3 linked regions of the Homo sapiens genome follow. The protein of the gene in region 3 purifies or fractionates together with the protein of the main gene of each other region. This does not show direct contact. Each region holds a gene or a part of one and is shown on either strand. Other genes may lie near its edges.

Evidence for each region. Proteins that work in one complex are often made in the same cells at the same time.
Region 1: the proteins of GTPBP10 (region 3) and EXOC3 fractionate together in Homo sapiens (co-fractionation; one large-scale study listed by BioGRID). This does not show direct contact.
Region 2: the proteins of GTPBP10 (region 3) and MRPL42 purify together in Homo sapiens (co-immunoprecipitation; one large-scale study listed by IntAct). This does not show direct contact.

What each region holds. Positions count from the first base shown.
Region 1 is NC_000005.10:449,006-454,341, reverse strand, and holds part of EXOC3 (exocyst complex component 3), read right to left. Parts: intron 973-5,336; coding exon 291-972; intron 1-290. UniProt on the Homo sapiens protein: Component of the exocyst complex involved in the docking of exocytic vesicles with fusion sites on the plasma membrane.
Region 2 is NC_000012.12:93,483,844-93,489,179, forward strand, and holds part of MRPL42 (large ribosomal subunit protein mL42 precursor), read left to right. Parts: intron 1-3,653; coding exon 3,654-3,817; intron 3,818-5,336.
Region 3 is NC_000007.14:90,380,261-90,385,596, reverse strand, and holds part of GTPBP10 (GTP-binding protein 10), read right to left. Parts: intron 2,642-5,336; coding exon 2,518-2,641; intron 706-2,517; coding exon 443-705; 3' UTR 1-442. UniProt on the Homo sapiens protein: May be involved in the ribosome maturation process. Complements an ObgE(CgtA) function in E.coli ribosome maturation. Plays a role of GTPase in vitro. When missing, disorganization of the nucleolar architecture is observed.

The DNA of each region.
Region 1 (5,336 bases), on a different chromosome or scaffold from region 3:
GGTGAGCACAGGAAACAGGCCCAGCCCAGAGCTGCACCCTGTCAAGCTCAACGGGGGCTGGAGGCCAAGAGCAGAGATCCCTCCCAAGCACAACAGTGTTCAAACACCAGAGGCTGGGCACCAGCAGGCAGAGCAGAAAGAAGACACCCCTGGGCTGGAAACCAAGGCTGTGGGCTCGGAGCACCTGCCCAGAGCAACACCCTGAGGTCGGCTCTCCAGCAAGCAGCTGCAGGCCCCTCTCACACACGGCTTCTACCTAAGAGCCAACACAGGCGCCAGGTTAGCTTTACCTTGTGTAGGTGTTTAAGACCCACGTCAAGAGGCTCACGATCTCATTGGCTTCCAGGTCTTCCGATGCGAGGTCCTGCATCCGCGTGCTCAGGGCTTGGTGGTACATGTTCAGGAGGTTCTTAAAGATCTCATAGTGGGGAGGAAAGCACTGAACCATCAGGTTTTTGGCGACAATGAGGTCATCCAGGACGTACTTCCTTATAATTTCCAGGTGGCGGACAAGCCACATCTTGTCAGACTCTCTGGTATCTGCCTGTGTGCCCTCAATTCTGGTGGTCACAGTCCTCTCCAAGATGGTGAACATTTTCTCCTTCCAATTCTTGGGCCTCCCAGGAGGAACAAAGCCAGTTTGCTTTTTCCGGTCAAGTATGCGCCTGTCAATTTTCTCTTCCCTTTCAATGATCCTGACAACTGAGACCAGCAAGGTGGGGTCACGGCGGACAGTGACCAGTGACCTCTGCAGCACCATCCACAGCTGCTTAGCCAGCTCATCAGAGAGCCCCTGCGTGCTGCCAAAGTAGCCATGGATGAGGGTCATGTCACGCGTGTTCCCACTGTCCATGCGGTACTGCTCGTACATCAGCCCGTCCCGGGAGCACTCCAGGTCCATCAGCTTCCGGTGGGCTTGCAGGAGTGCCCCTTGTTCAATTAGGTCCTGGGTCTCCCTCACAATCTCAGGCACTAGGGAGAAGGCACAAGACACAACATAAACAACCACCACCACATAAAAGGCTGCCTGCATGCGGTGTTCTGGGAACACGGCAGAGCAGGAAGCCACATCTCCCTAGCTAACAACAACTGCAATGGCAGGATGTGTCTGAGGTAACTATCTTTGGAACTCTGGAGTCTATTAAAGGCATAAATGGTAAACTGTGGTTAACTGTGGTCATTTGCAGCTCTCAGCTGGGCAGTGGCTACCGAGGCCCCACCTCCCACCCCGCAGGCAGCTGTGCATGTGCTGATGTGTTCCTAAAGCTGCCTGCACACAGCCTGCAGCCTGGCTGGGCAAAAAGAACCCTGTCCTCCACACCGGAGATCTGTACTCAGATCACTGACTGCTGCTTCTGACCACAGAGGTGCGAAGAGGTAAGTGGCCACTGTTGCATCTTCCCCTGTTCACAGGTCCCTCCTCACCCCCACAGAGCTCCAGGGAATTTAAAGGGCCAATGTCTTCACCACCCCCTTCATCTGTTCCCCTTCTTGAAAGCCAGATATTTATGAATGAAGACATTCAAAAGTAACTGCATTTATAGGAAAAATTCGGAAGTGGCCAATGCATGCCCAGGCAAAGGCATAGGCTCAGAAAAGACTTGACACGACCTTGAAGTTCACACCTCAGGCTGTGCCTTGGCACAGAGAGCCTACAACAACCAAAAACAAGAATCATCAACCTGGGAAGGGGATCTGATTTCCAGAGTTATCACATTATTCGATTCAAGTGTCCATTTTTCAACAACAAAAACATCACAAGGCACCCAAAGAAAGAAGAAAGTATGGCCCATTCAAAGGAAAACATAAGAAACTGTTCCTGTAAAAGATCTGATGGCAGATCTACTAGAGAAAGACTTTAAAACAACGATTTAAAGATGCCTAAGGAACTTAAAGATGTGAAGAAAGACATGTATGAGCAAAATGGAAATACCAATAATGAGACAGAAAATCCAAAAGGAAACCAAACAGAAAATATGAAGCTGAAAAGTACAATAAATGAAATGAAAAATTCACTAAAGGGATTCAAAGGCAGATCTGCACAGGCGCAAGAAAGAATCAGTGAATGTGAAGACAGGACAATGGGAAATATCAAGTATCCGGAACAGAAAGAAAAAAGATTGAAGAAAAGTGAACAGAGCCTCAGGGACCTTGTGGACATCATCAAGCAGGCCAACATATGCTTAGTGGGACTTTTAGAAGGAGAAGAGAGAAATGGGCAAGACATTATTTGAAGAAATAATAGGTGAAAACTCCCCACATTTGATGAAAGACATGAATATGAAGATCCAAGAAGCTCAATGACCTCCAAGCAAGAGGAACTCAGAGGTCCACACTAAGATACAACTTAATCAAACTTTTGAAAGAATTCTGAAAGCAGCAACTTGTCAGAAACAAGGGCTCCAAAATAAGATTATGAGCAGATCAGATTTCTCACCAGAAACTTTGGAGGCCAGAGGCAGTGGGATGACATATTCAAAGTGCTAAAAGAAAAATACTGTCAACCAAGAACCTTAAATCTAGCAAAATGGTCATTCAAAAGTGAGAGCGATATTAAGACATCCCCAGATAAACAAAAGCTGAAAAGCTTGTTACCACAAGATCTGCCCTGCAAGAAATGCTTAAATAGAGTCCCACTGGTTGAGAAGAAAGAATGCTAGAGAGCAACTGGAAGCCACGTGAAGAAGCAAAGGCCTCAAAAAAGGTAAATTCATGGACAATCGTAAAATCTAGTATCATTAACACTTCAGTTTTTAACTCATCACTCTGTTTCGTACATGACTTAAGAGACTAATATTTGTTCTGGTTAAAAGGGACAAATAAAAAAGAAACTAATACATTAAAAAATAGTCTAAAAGCTACTAATACTGTAACTTTGGATTCTAACTCCACATTGTTTTCTACCTAATTTTTAAAAATGAATGCATTAAAAAACAATTATTAGTCTATGATTTTGGACACATGATATATAAAGATGTAATTTTGTGAAATGAACAACCCAAAGGGAGTGGAGATGAAGCCATATAGGGACGGTTTTTGTGTGTTATTGAAGTTAAGTTGATATAAATTCAAACTGAAGCGAGATAATGTTAGATGTTAAGTGTAATCTTTATGGTAGGCACAAAGAAAACAGCTATAGAATATACGCAAAAGAAACAAGGGAATTAAAATGTTTACTACCAAAATAATCAAAAGCACAAAAAAAATGCAGAAATAAGAGACAAAAATGTTATACCGCATATAGAAAACAAACAGCAAAATGACAGAAGTCCCTTCTTATCAGTAATCACTTAAATGTAAGCTCTTCCATCAAAAGAGGTAGGCAAAATTAATTAAAATCTTCAATCAAAAGAGGTAGACAAAATAGATTTAAAAAATAAAACATGATTCAACTCTATGTGTTCACCAGAGACTGACCTTAGAGCCCAAGACACAAATAGGTTGAAAGTAAAAGGGTGGAAAAAGATATTCCATATAAATAATAACCAAAAGAGAACAGGAGTGGTTATACTAATAAATATGAAATATACTTTAAATTAAAAAAAAAAAAACTAGTCACAAAGAAGGCCATATGTATTAATAGAAGGTTCAGCAAGAAGATGTAACAATTATAAATATTTCTGCATTTACTAACAGACCGTCAAAATACATGAAGCAAAAATGGATAGAACTGAAGGGAAAAACATTCAGTTCTGTAATAGTCGGAGGCTTCAATATCTCTCTCTCAATAATGGACAGAACAAGCAGACAGAAGCTAAACAAGGAAAGAGAGGACTTGAACAATGCAACCAACCAACCAGACTGAACAGACACAGAAAGAACACCCAACAACAGAACACACACTATTCTCACGTGCACATGGGACAGTCTTCAGGAAAGACCATGGATTAGGCCTCAAATTAAGACTCAGGTTTTTAAAAGATAAATATCATACAAAGTATCTTCTCCAAACTCAACAGATGACATTAGAAATCAGTATCAGAAGGAAAACTGTAAAATTCACCAATTTGTGGAAATTAAACAACATACTCTTAAACAATTAATGGGGCAAAAAAGGAAACATAAGGGACTTTTGTTTTGTTTTGTTTTGTTTTTCAGATGAAGTCTCGCTCTTGTCCCCCTGGCTGGAGTGCAGTGGTGCGATCTCGGCTCACTGTGACCTCTGCCTCCTGGGTTCAAGTGATTCTCCTGCCTCAGCCTCCTGAGTAGCTGGGATTACAGGCGCCTGCCACCACGCCCGGCTAATTTTTATATTTTTAGTAGAGACGGGGTTTCACCATGTTGGCCGGGCTGGTCTCAAACTCCTGACCTCAGGTGATCCGCCTGCCTCAGCCTTCCAAAGTGCTGGGATGACGGGCGTGAGCCACCGCACCCAGCCATAAGGGATATTTTTAAAAACCTAAGAGAAGAATGAAAATGCAGACGAATCAGAAACCTCACACACTCATGGTGGAAAATGCTGCAGCCACCGGAGGAAACAGTCTGGCAGCTGCTCAAAGATTTAAACATAAATTACCACATGGTCCAGCAATTACACTTGTGTGTATATACCAGAAAGAAATAAAAGTAAAACATCTGTACACCCATGTTCACTACAGCATTATTCACAATAGCTAAAACGTGGAAGCAATTCAAATGTCCACCAACAGACAAACGGATAAGCAAAATGTGGTCCATCCATACAATGGAATATTATTCAGCCTTAAAAGTGAAGGAAATTCTACAATACCACAGCATAGAAGACCCCTGAGGACATCATGCTGAGTGAAATAAGCATGTCACAGAAAGACAGATAATGTGTGATGCCACTTCTATGAGGTCTTCAGAGTCATCCAATTCACAGAGACAGAAGGCAGAATGGTGGTGACCAGGAGCTGGGGCAGAGGGTGCGAAGTCAGTGTTTAATGGGTACAGATTTTCATGTCTGCAAGATGAAAAGAGTTCTGAAGACGGATGTGGCAATGGTTGCACAACAATATGAATGTTCTTAATAGTCCCCAACTGTACACTTAAAAATGGTTAAGACGGCAAACTGTACATATGCATTTTAGAAGAAGAAAAAATGGGGGAGGGGAGCTGTGTACACAGCATTGCTGAGTTATAGGCAATGAGACAAGTCTGAAGGCAACCAAACCAATCTTCTCAATGAAAATTTATCCGTAACAAAAAACATGCATACCACGCAGGCTCATTTGTTCACCAAGGAAAGGAAATTATTTTCAACTGCTGTGGATAAACTAATTCCAGTAATGCACCTTTTTGGTCATCAGGCATTAGTTTAAAAGACCGGAAGGAAATGTAGCCAGCCAATACGAAATAAGAGGAAATTAACTAGA
Region 2 (5,336 bases), on a different chromosome or scaffold from region 3:
AAATATCGTGTACAGCTATACAAAAATATTTTCTTTATATCCTTATTCTATAAGCTTTTTTGTATTAAAATTTTTGTTTGCACTTTTTAAACTTTTTTTGTGAGAACTAAGACACAAACACAGTCTAGGCCCACACAGGGTCAGGATGATCAATATTACTGTCTTCTACCTCCACATTTTGTCCCACTGGAAGGTCTTCAGGTACAGTAACATGCCTGGAGCTGTCATCTCCTATGATAACAGTGTCTTCTTCTGGAATACCTCCTGAGGGGCTTGCCTGAGGCTGTTTTACAATTGACTTTTTTTTAACAAGTAGGAGTACGCTCTAAAATAATGATAAAAAGTATATAGTATAGTAAATGCATAAACCAGTTGCCTAGTCATTTATTATTATTTTTATTATTTAATTATTTTGGTTGAGACGGGGTCTCACTACATGTTACTCTGGCTGGTTTTGAACTCCTGAGCTCAAGCCTCACAAAGTGCTGGAATTACAGCCATGAGCCACTGTAGCCTGCCGTTATTTATTATTATTATCAAGTATTATGTGCTATACATAATTGTATGTGCTATACTTTTATACAGCTGGCAGTGCAGTTGGTTTGTTTACATTGGCACCACCACAAACATGTAAGCAATGCATTGCACTATGGCGTTCTGCACCATCACTAGGTGACAGGAATTTTTTTAGCTTCATGATAATCTTATGGTACCACTGTAGTATACACTGTCCTTCATCACTGTACATTGTTGACTAAAACATTGTTATTTCAGGCAGAATCTTGCCCTGTCACCCAGGGTGGAATGCGGTGGCATGATCTTGGCTCACTGAAACCTCTGCCTACTGGGTTCAAACGATTCTTCTGCCTCAGCCTCCCGAGTAGCTGAGGTTACAGGCATGCACCACAACACCTGGCTAATTTTTTGTATTTTCAGTAGAGACAGAGTTTCAACATGTTGGCCAGGCTGGTCATGAACTCTTGACCTCATGTGATCCGCTCACCATGGCCTCCCAAAGTGCTGGGATTACAGGCATGAGTCACTGCGCCCGGCCTCAAAACATTCTTATGCAGCCCATGACTTTACTTAATTGTGCCACCTCCATTGCTTTTTAAAAAACACACACACACACACACATATATATATATATATATATATATATATATATATATATATATATATATAAACAGAGATGGGGGGTCTTACCATGGTGCCTAGGCTGGTCTCAACCTCCTAGGCTCAAGCATTCCTTTGCCACTTTGACCTTCCTAAGTGCTGGGATTACAGGTGTGAGCCACTGCACGTGGCCCACATTGCCTTTTTTTTTTTTTTTAATTGACACAGGGTCTGTCTGTGTCACCAAGACTGGAATGCAGTGGCGTGATCTTGGCTCACTGCAGCCTCAGCTTCCCAGGCTTAAGTGATCCTCCCATTTCAGCCTCCTGAGTAGCCGGGACTGCAGGTGTGAGCTACCATGCCTGGCTAATTTTTTGTATTTTTTGTAGAGACAGCGTCTCCAACTCCTGAGCTCAAAGTGATCTGCCTGTCTCAGTCTCCCAAAGTGCTAGGATTAACACATGTGAGCCACCGCACCTGGCCACATTGCCTTTTAAAGAGGTCTTGTTTCATGTGCATAAACTAGATATAAATATATGCTATAATATTTAATACAGTGGTAGAATGTAGTTGTCACTAATAGCGTATGAATGTAAAGAAAATATGTTTGAATTGTTTCTTACTGGTTGTAAATTCAGATTTTCATTGTATTATAATACATACATATTGTTATTTTAAAGCAAGGCAGTGTTACAATCTTGTTACATATATATTATTATTGAATATGTTACTTTCATTATGATAGCGTTATATAGTATTGAATGTTACAATCTTTGTTACATACCTTAATATCACTTAATATTTAAAATATAGGTAACTTGACCCTCCAAGATAGTGATTCCTTTTGTTTTCCGTTTTGTTTTGTTTTGAGACAGGGTCTCACTCTTGCTCAGGCAGGAGGGTACTGTGCAGTCATGGCTCACTGCAGCCTTGAACTCCTGGGCTCAAAAGATCATCCTGCCTCAGACCCCAAGTAGCTGGGACTGCAGCCATGCACCACCACACCTGGCTAATTTATTTTTTGTTTTTAAATTTTTTGTAGAGATGAGGTTTTTAAATTTTTTGTAGAGATGTTGCCCAGGCTGGTCTCAAACTCCTGGGCTCAAGTGGTTCTGCCACCTTGACCTCTGAAAGTGCTGGGATTACAGATGTGAGCCACATAGCTGGCCAAGACACTGATTCTTAAAGTCTTTAGTGAGTCACTATTACTGGTGGAATATGTTGTATATCATTCATGTGTGTTGAGGAGATAAGATTTTTAGTAATCATTAACTTTGGGGGAAAGCTATTTAAATTACAATAAAGCACTGTTTGGTGGCATTTTAGTCACCTGAAATGAAAATGTTGAAAATTTTTCTGCTTCCATTGGATGTAAGAAATGTCATTTTCTTTCTTTTTTCTTTTTGAGACAGTCTTGCTCTTTCGCCCAGGCTGGAGTGCAATGGTGCAATCTTGGCTCACTGCAACCTCTGCCTCCTGGGCTACAGCGATTCTCCTTCCTCAGCCTCCTGAGTAGCTGGGATTACAGGTGTGCGCTACCGCACCAAGCTAATTTTTAAGTAGAGATGGGGTTTCACCATGTTGGCCAGGCTAGTCTTGAACTCCTGACCTCAGGTGATCCACCTGCCTTGGCCTCCCAAAGTGCTGGGATTACAGGCGTGAGCCACCGCACCCGGCCAAAAAATGTCATTTTCAATGAAAAGTTTTTAATTATTTCTCATCTTAATGATATAAAAGGTAAATGGTAAACTTTTAAGTTAAAAAATAATAATAGGCATAATTTATACCTTTGAGAAACAGAAACTAAAGTAATAAGTACTTTATTACTGCAGAAAATAAGAACATTAAATGAGGGCTTTCTTTTTTTCTTTTTTTTTTATTTGTAGTAGAGACACGGTCTCGCTGTGTTGCCCAGGCTGGTCTTGAACTCTTGAACTGAAGTGATCCTCCCACCTTGGCCTCCCAAAGTGCTGGAATTACAGGCATGAGCCACCACACCCGGCCTTTCTATTTTTCTTTCTCTTTTTTGAGACAGGGTTTCACTCTGTCACCCAGGCTGGAGCACAGTAGTGTGATCACAGGTAGCCTCGACCTCCTGGTCTCAAGTGATCCTCCCACTTCAGCCTCTTGAGTAGCTGGGACTGCAGGTGCATGCCATCACACCTAGATAGTTTTTAAATTTTTTTTGTCTGACCATGTTGTCCAAGCTGGTCCCATGCTTTGGAACTCCTGGGCTCAAGTGATTCTCCTGCCTTGGTTTCCCAAAGTGCTGGGATTACAGGCATGAGCCACTCACTGCACCTGGCCTAAATAAGAACTTTATTATTGGAAAAGAAACCTAAAATTTGCTGTGAGAAGAAAAATATTTCTGACTAATGAATAATGCACTAAGTGAAACTTTGTTTTGATAACTTATTTGCCCACCCTAAAGTACTATAGTGAATTACTGAATATGGTAATTGTTTTATTGTGATCTCAAACAAATGCTGGCTAACATTCCCACATCTTCATGATGTTTGTTACTGATTATTTTGTAGCCTATCCCTCGGCCAGATCCTGTGCATAATAATGAAGAAACACATGATCAAGTGCTGAAAACCAGATTGGAAGAAAAAGTTGAACACCTTGAGGAAGGACCTATGATAGAACAACTTAGCAAAATGTTCTTTACTACTAAGCACCGTTGGTATCCTCATGGACGGTAAGTTTTCTTTTCTTTTCTTCAATCCCTACTACATACAGTAAAGGAACACATGGATTTTCTTGCAATAACAAACTTCTGAAGTGGTGTTTTGCATGAGGAAATTAACCCTAAGTAGAATCACCTACTATGTTGTACTTTTTTTTTCTTTTCTGAGACAGGATCTCGCTCTGTCACCCAGGCTGGAGTGCAGTGCCACAATCTCAGCTCACTGCAGCCTCAACCTCCAGTGCTCAAGTGATCTTCGCACTTTAGCCTTCCGAGTAGCTAGTACTACAGGCATGTGCCACCACACCTGGCTAATTTTGTTCTTTTTTTTTTTTTTTGAGACAAAGAGTCTTGCTCTGTCACCCAGGCTGGAGTGCAGTGGCGAGATCTCGTTTCACTGCAACCTCCACCTCCCAGGTTCAAGCGATTCTCCTGCCTCAGCCTCCTGAGTAGCTGGGACTACAGGCGCATGCCACTATGCCCAGCTAATTTTTTGTATTTTCATTAGAGGCGGGGTTTTACCGTGTTAGCCAGGATGGTCTCGAACTCCTGACCTTGTGATCCACCCACCTTGGCCTCCCAAAGTGCTGGGATTACAGGCGTGAGCCACCGAGCCTGGCTCTTTTTTCTTCTTTTGTAGAGGCAAGGTCTCACTCACTGTGTTGCGCAGGCTGATTTTAAACTCCTGGACTCAAGTGATCCTCCTCCCTCAGCTGGGATTGTAAGAATGAGCCACTGCCACTGTACTTTTAAATTTACATATAATTTAGCTAAAATGAAATAGTACTTCTTTTTTTCTTTATTTTAATGGGGGAATTTAACCAGAGCTTTCAGTGAATTTTGTAAGAGTTCTTGAAAATTTTTACATTCTATGATGTATTCATTTAATATGTTGTTTTTGTTCATTTTCCTGTTAAGTAATTGATTGTGTCTTCAGCCCTTTATCAATTTCTTTATCATATTTTGAGTTATCGAAAAAAACATTGGGGTACAGAAAATGATTGGGCAGCGTATGTTGTTCTCAGTTCCCTTGGAAACTGTAATTGCCCTGATGTTTGCAAATACTCACATTTTCCATCGATTCTTACCTGCCATTTGACTCTGGCATTAATTAGTTTTCCTCTTTTTGATTTTTTTCTTTTGTATCTATCTTCTTCCATACCAAACTATAAGATGTTTTTGTTGTTTATATTTGAACAAACTTTTTTTTCTTTTTTTTTTTTGTGAGAAGGAGGTCTCATTATGTTACCCAGGCTGATCTTGAACTCGTGGGCTCAAGCAATCCTCCTTCCTCAGCCTCCTAAGTAGCTGGGATTACAGGCACACTCTGCCACGCCCAGCTAGTTTGAACAAAACTTTGTTCTTAGTTGTTTAACTCAGTAACTAGCACTGGCTGGCATATTTATGGCAGGGTACATTTATAGAATTAATGAATATACATTTATCAAGTGGCTCTAAGTGCTGGTTAGTGTAAAACATAATCCCCAGTTACAAATTGTTTATAGTCAAGGAGGGAAGATAGTAGAGTAAA
Region 3 (5,336 bases):
ATTTATCATGTGTAACATGTTTTGAAATATCTATACATTGTGGAATGGCTCAATATAGCTAATTAACGTGCATTACCTTATGTGCTTTTTTGGAAAAACCACTTAAAATTTACTCAGTGACTTTCAAAATACATTGTTGTTAATTACAGTCACCAAGCTGTACAACAGATCTCTTGAACTCAGTTGCCTTGTCTAACTGAAATTTTGTAAATTTTGACCAATATCTCCTCAATCCTCCACTGCCCCACCAGCCCTTGATAACCACCATTCTATTCTCTCCTTCTATGAGTTCAACTTAAGATTCCACAGTGAGATTATGCAGCATTTGTCTTTCTAAGCCTGGCTTATTTTACTTAACATGTCCTCCAGGTTGTCACAGATGAAAGGATTTCCTTGTTTTTAAGCATTAAATACTGTTCCATCAATACCATTTTTAATATATTTAAATTATATCCATTTTGGAAGTAGTAACAGCATGCTTTGATGGTGGCTCAGTAGAAGACATTGTATCAGAAATCCACAAATTAAGCAACTGTTTCTTATGAAGTGCATCATTTTCCTGGTTGGCCTGTTCATCCAGTGACTTTCTTATACAATTCTTTAATTCTTCGATTCCTTCTCCAGTAACTGCAGATATGGGGATGATATGTTGGAACTCTACAGTCCTCTCTGGAATCATGTTTTTTTCAAATAAATGCAGAAAATCTAAAAGAAAGAGCACAAACAAAGCTGATTTCCATTGTTTTCGAAAGTTAGTTAAAACCATGTTAATGGTTTGATTTGTGAAGCAGGGAACCAACACCAGCATTTTTCATGCCTTTTTTCACCTTTTCTAATAAGTTCTCAGAGCCTTTGGATTTTACCATTGATTATGGTAAGGTTCTTGGCACATAACATACTTGTTAGATAAATATATTTTAAACCAAACTAAGTATGAGTAGAAGATGAATCACAAAAATGACTTACTTAAGGAAGTAATAAATTTTGTGTGTGTGGGGGGGGTTAAATAAGGCAAGGCAGCATTGATTCTCTGAAAGATACTTTCTGTAAAAATAATAACATCATTTATGATTTGAGACATTCTACTTGGCCTCAGTACACTGGAGACCTTTAACTTCCCCAAAGTATAGGTTTATCATCAATGATGCTAGGATCCATACAAAAACTGAAGAGGGATTATAGAGAATTCAAGGGAAGATAATTTCAGATGAGTCCAATCTATCACCCCACAAGGGCTAACAATTGTTATATTACTTTTACCTCTTCCCTGTCACCATGGCATACTGATTGGCTGGGGAGATGGCATACTGATTAGATGGATTAACTGATATGAACTAGAAAGGCTGGACTGAAACAGATTGGTGGAGAAGACAACATGGAGCTTACTTTCTGAGATTCAAAAGCCCCGAAGAAAGTCCAGAGAGGATAACTCAGGATTATCACTAAAGGGCCTATATTTTATTTCACGATAGGTCAGAACAGCTACAGACTCCTGAGTCACCCTCACTTTCGGTATTTCCTCTGAAAATTCCCTTCTCTGCAAGATCAACTAGCAAAAAGAACTAATGACCATACAAAGCAAATGTCATTAGGAATGAAGGCTATTTAGTATCAGAGAATATTTATATCCCATGAGTAATTTATTAACTCAAGGACAGCTCCAACATGTAGATTACACAGGGGAAAGATTTTTGAGAGGAAAGGACCTTCTGGTGCTGTTTGACAGTCTTAGTACCTATAATCTATTTTCCAACAATTGTTACCAAGAATAAAAACAGAGACATATTGAAAAACATGTTAGCCACATACCATACACCCTACTTTTCCTCATTTGTGCATGAGGTTCTCTACTAGACTCTGAATGAAACCACCATTGCCATAGGATAGAAGGTGTTCTGCAAATGTCAATATTCAAAACTGTGGAGAATCCCTTTAAGTTACTTTACATATAGTCCAGGAAGTAAATTCCAGACAAATAAATCATTTTGGAGTCACAGCTTCTATTATTGTGTCACACATACACAGGAAAAATGAAGTTCTTTTCAGAAGACTCATCCTCTTCAGAAACCTATAGAGTTACTTTTGCCAAGAAACATACTTCTTTAGAACTTCTTAGTTCTGTCTTTAATTTTATGATGTACAGTACTAGACGAATGAAGAGCTTGTGAAGTATGTTAATGAAAGTGAAAGACTTCACAGGTAGATGCTGACTTTTTCCTCCTTTTATTCAAATCCCACATATGCCTTATGGGCCCAATTTAAGTTTTATTCTTCATGTAGCCTGACCTTTTTAGTTCAAATTAATCTTTCTTTTGTCTCCTTTAATTTACTGTCCATATCAAACATTCTAGAATTTGGTAATTATTATGTTACAATGTTATTTACATGTTTTGTATATTCTTTCTTCAAACTTGACTTTTAAGAGCAGAAACTGTCAGTTTTCCACTGATTATAACAGCATTCTCTGTACATTGTAATTATTCTTTAAATTAGAATTAAATGAATAAATAGGTTTACCTTTAGGATTCTGGAGCTGGCTCATCAATTCATGGAACTTATCTTGGGCATCTGGCAAGTCCATTTTATTAACTGCCAAGAGTGCAGGTTTTGTCTGAAGTTCCTCTTTGTACAATTCCAACTCCTTTAAATCAAAAGAGAAAACCCAATAATTTTAGTACTGGTTTCTGTATAAACTACTTATTTGGTAATTAATGACCCAGGTGATCTAAAACCCATTCACATCACCGAAATGCAATAAATCCCAACAACAGAAAACAAAAGGAAGAATTTCAGAAAATGACTCTGGTTAAGTCATGTGTTAGTATGTTTTAGCTTAAATGATATCCTAGAGACAGTTGTAATTTTGCGTCTAGAGTCAAATATGGGTATCTGGACTTCACACAGATAAAATTCAGAAGTCAGTAATGATCACTGAATGTTATACCTGTAGTATTCTTGGAAAAAGTAAATGCACTTAGGAATAAATCTTTGTTACCTTGGATTAAACAACTGTTTCTTAGATATAACATGAAAAGCACAAGTAAAATAATAGATAAAAGGCAGAAGACTGCTTAAGGCCACCAGGAGTTTGAGGCTACAATGAGCTAGGATCATGTCTGCACTCTAGCCTACATGACAGAGCGAAGCCCTGTTTGTAATAAAAATAAATAAATATGTAAGACTGGGCATGGTGGCTCATGCCTGTAATCTCAGCACTTTAGGAGGCTGAGGTAGGAGCATTGCTTGGGCCCAGGAGTTCAAGACAAGCCTTGACAACATAACGAGACCCCATCTCTATACAAAATTTTAGTTTAATTTTAAAAAAGGAAAGAAAAGAATGAAACAAATGGAATTTCATGAAAATTAAAAATTTTGAGTTGTTTTCTTGCTATTGAGAGTTGTTTTGCTTCCTTATGTTTTGGATATCAACCACTTATCAGATATATGATTTACAAATATTTTCTCCCATTCCCTTGGTTGCCTCTTCACTCTGCTGACTGTTCCTTTTGCTGTGCAGAAGCTTTTTAGTTTGATGCAATCCTACTTGTCTATTTTTCTTTTTGTTGCCTGTGCTTTGGGGTCACATTAAAAAAAAATCATTGCTCAGACAAATGTCATGGAACTTCTCTGTTTTCTTCTAGTGGTTTTATGGTTTCAGGCTTTAAGTCTTTAATCAACTTTGAACTGATTTTTTATATGGTGTGAAGTAAGGATCTAATTTCATTTCTCTGCATGTGGATATTCAGTTTTCTCAGTATCACTTATTGACGAAGAAAACTGTCCTTTCCTTACTGTGTGTTCTAGGTACCTTTGTCGAAAATTAACTGTAAATGCATGGATTTAATTCTGAGCTCTGGATTCTGTTCCATTGGTTTATGTGTCTACTGTTATGCCAGTACCACGCTGTTTTGATTATGATAGCTTTGTAGTAGGTTTTGAAATTAGGTAGTGTGAAGCTTCCAGCTTTGTTCCTTTTGCTCAAGATAAGATTGCTTTGGCTATTCAGGGTCTTTTGATGTTCCATACAAATTTTAAGATTTGTTTTCTATTTCTGTGAAAAATGCCATTAGAATTTTGATATGGATTGTGCTGAATCCGTAGATCACTTTGGGTAATATAAACCTGATTTAAAAATGGATAAAGAACCTGAATTGACATTTCTCAACAACAAACAAATGACCAATATATGTATGAAAAAATGTTCAACATCACTGATCATTAGGGAAATGAAAAGAAAAACCACAATGAGATAGCTCCTCACACTTGGAAGGATGGCTATTATCAAAAAGACAAAAGATAACAAGTGTTGTCAAGGATATGGAGAAAGAGGAACTCTTGAACACCGTTGAGTGGGAATGTAAATTAGTACAGCCATTGTAAAAAGCAGTATAAAGATTTCTCAAAAAATTAAAAATAGAACTACCATATGATCCGGCAATCCCACTTCTGGGTATATATCCAAAGGAAATAAAATCAGTATGTCAAAGAGATCTCTGCATTCCCATTTTTACTGAAACATTATTCACAATAGCCGAGACATGGAATCAACCTCAGTGTCCATCAATGGATGAATAACGAAAATGTGGTATACACACACACAACTGAATATTATTCAGCCTTAAAAAAAGAAAATCTTGTCGTTTATAACAACATGGATGAACCTGGAGAACACTATGCTAAGTGAAATAAGCCAAGCACAGAAAAAAAAATACTGCATAATCCCACTTATATGTGGAATCTTAAAAGGTTGAATTCATAGTAGCAGAGAAAATGGTGGTTGCCAGGGTGCTTGGGGGAGGAAGATGGAGGGGTGTTGGTCAAATGGAACAAAGATTCAATTAAATAGGATGAATAAGCCCTGAAGATCTATTTTACAGTATGATGACTATAGTTAATGTATTATATATTTGAAAATTGCTAAAACAGATTTTAAATATTCTCAACACACATAAAATAGTATGTAAGATGATGGATCATGTTAATTAGCTTGATTCAATCATTTCACAAGGTAAACATATATCCAAATATCACTTGTACACTTTAAGTACACACAATTTTTATGTCAATTACACTTTAATAAAACTGGAAAATTAAATAAATAAATAATAGTTTTGTGCCACAAAGAATACAGAAAAAATACACTGAAAAAGTGAAAAGACAAGTCACAGAAGGGGAGAAAATATTTTCAAATTATGTATCTTAGAAGGGACTTAATTTCCAGCTGGGCATGGTGGCTCACGTCTGTAATCCCAGCACTCTGGGAAGCCAGGTGGGCGGATCACCTGAGGTCAGGAGTTCAAGACCAGCCTGGCCAACATGGTGAAACCCTGTTTCTA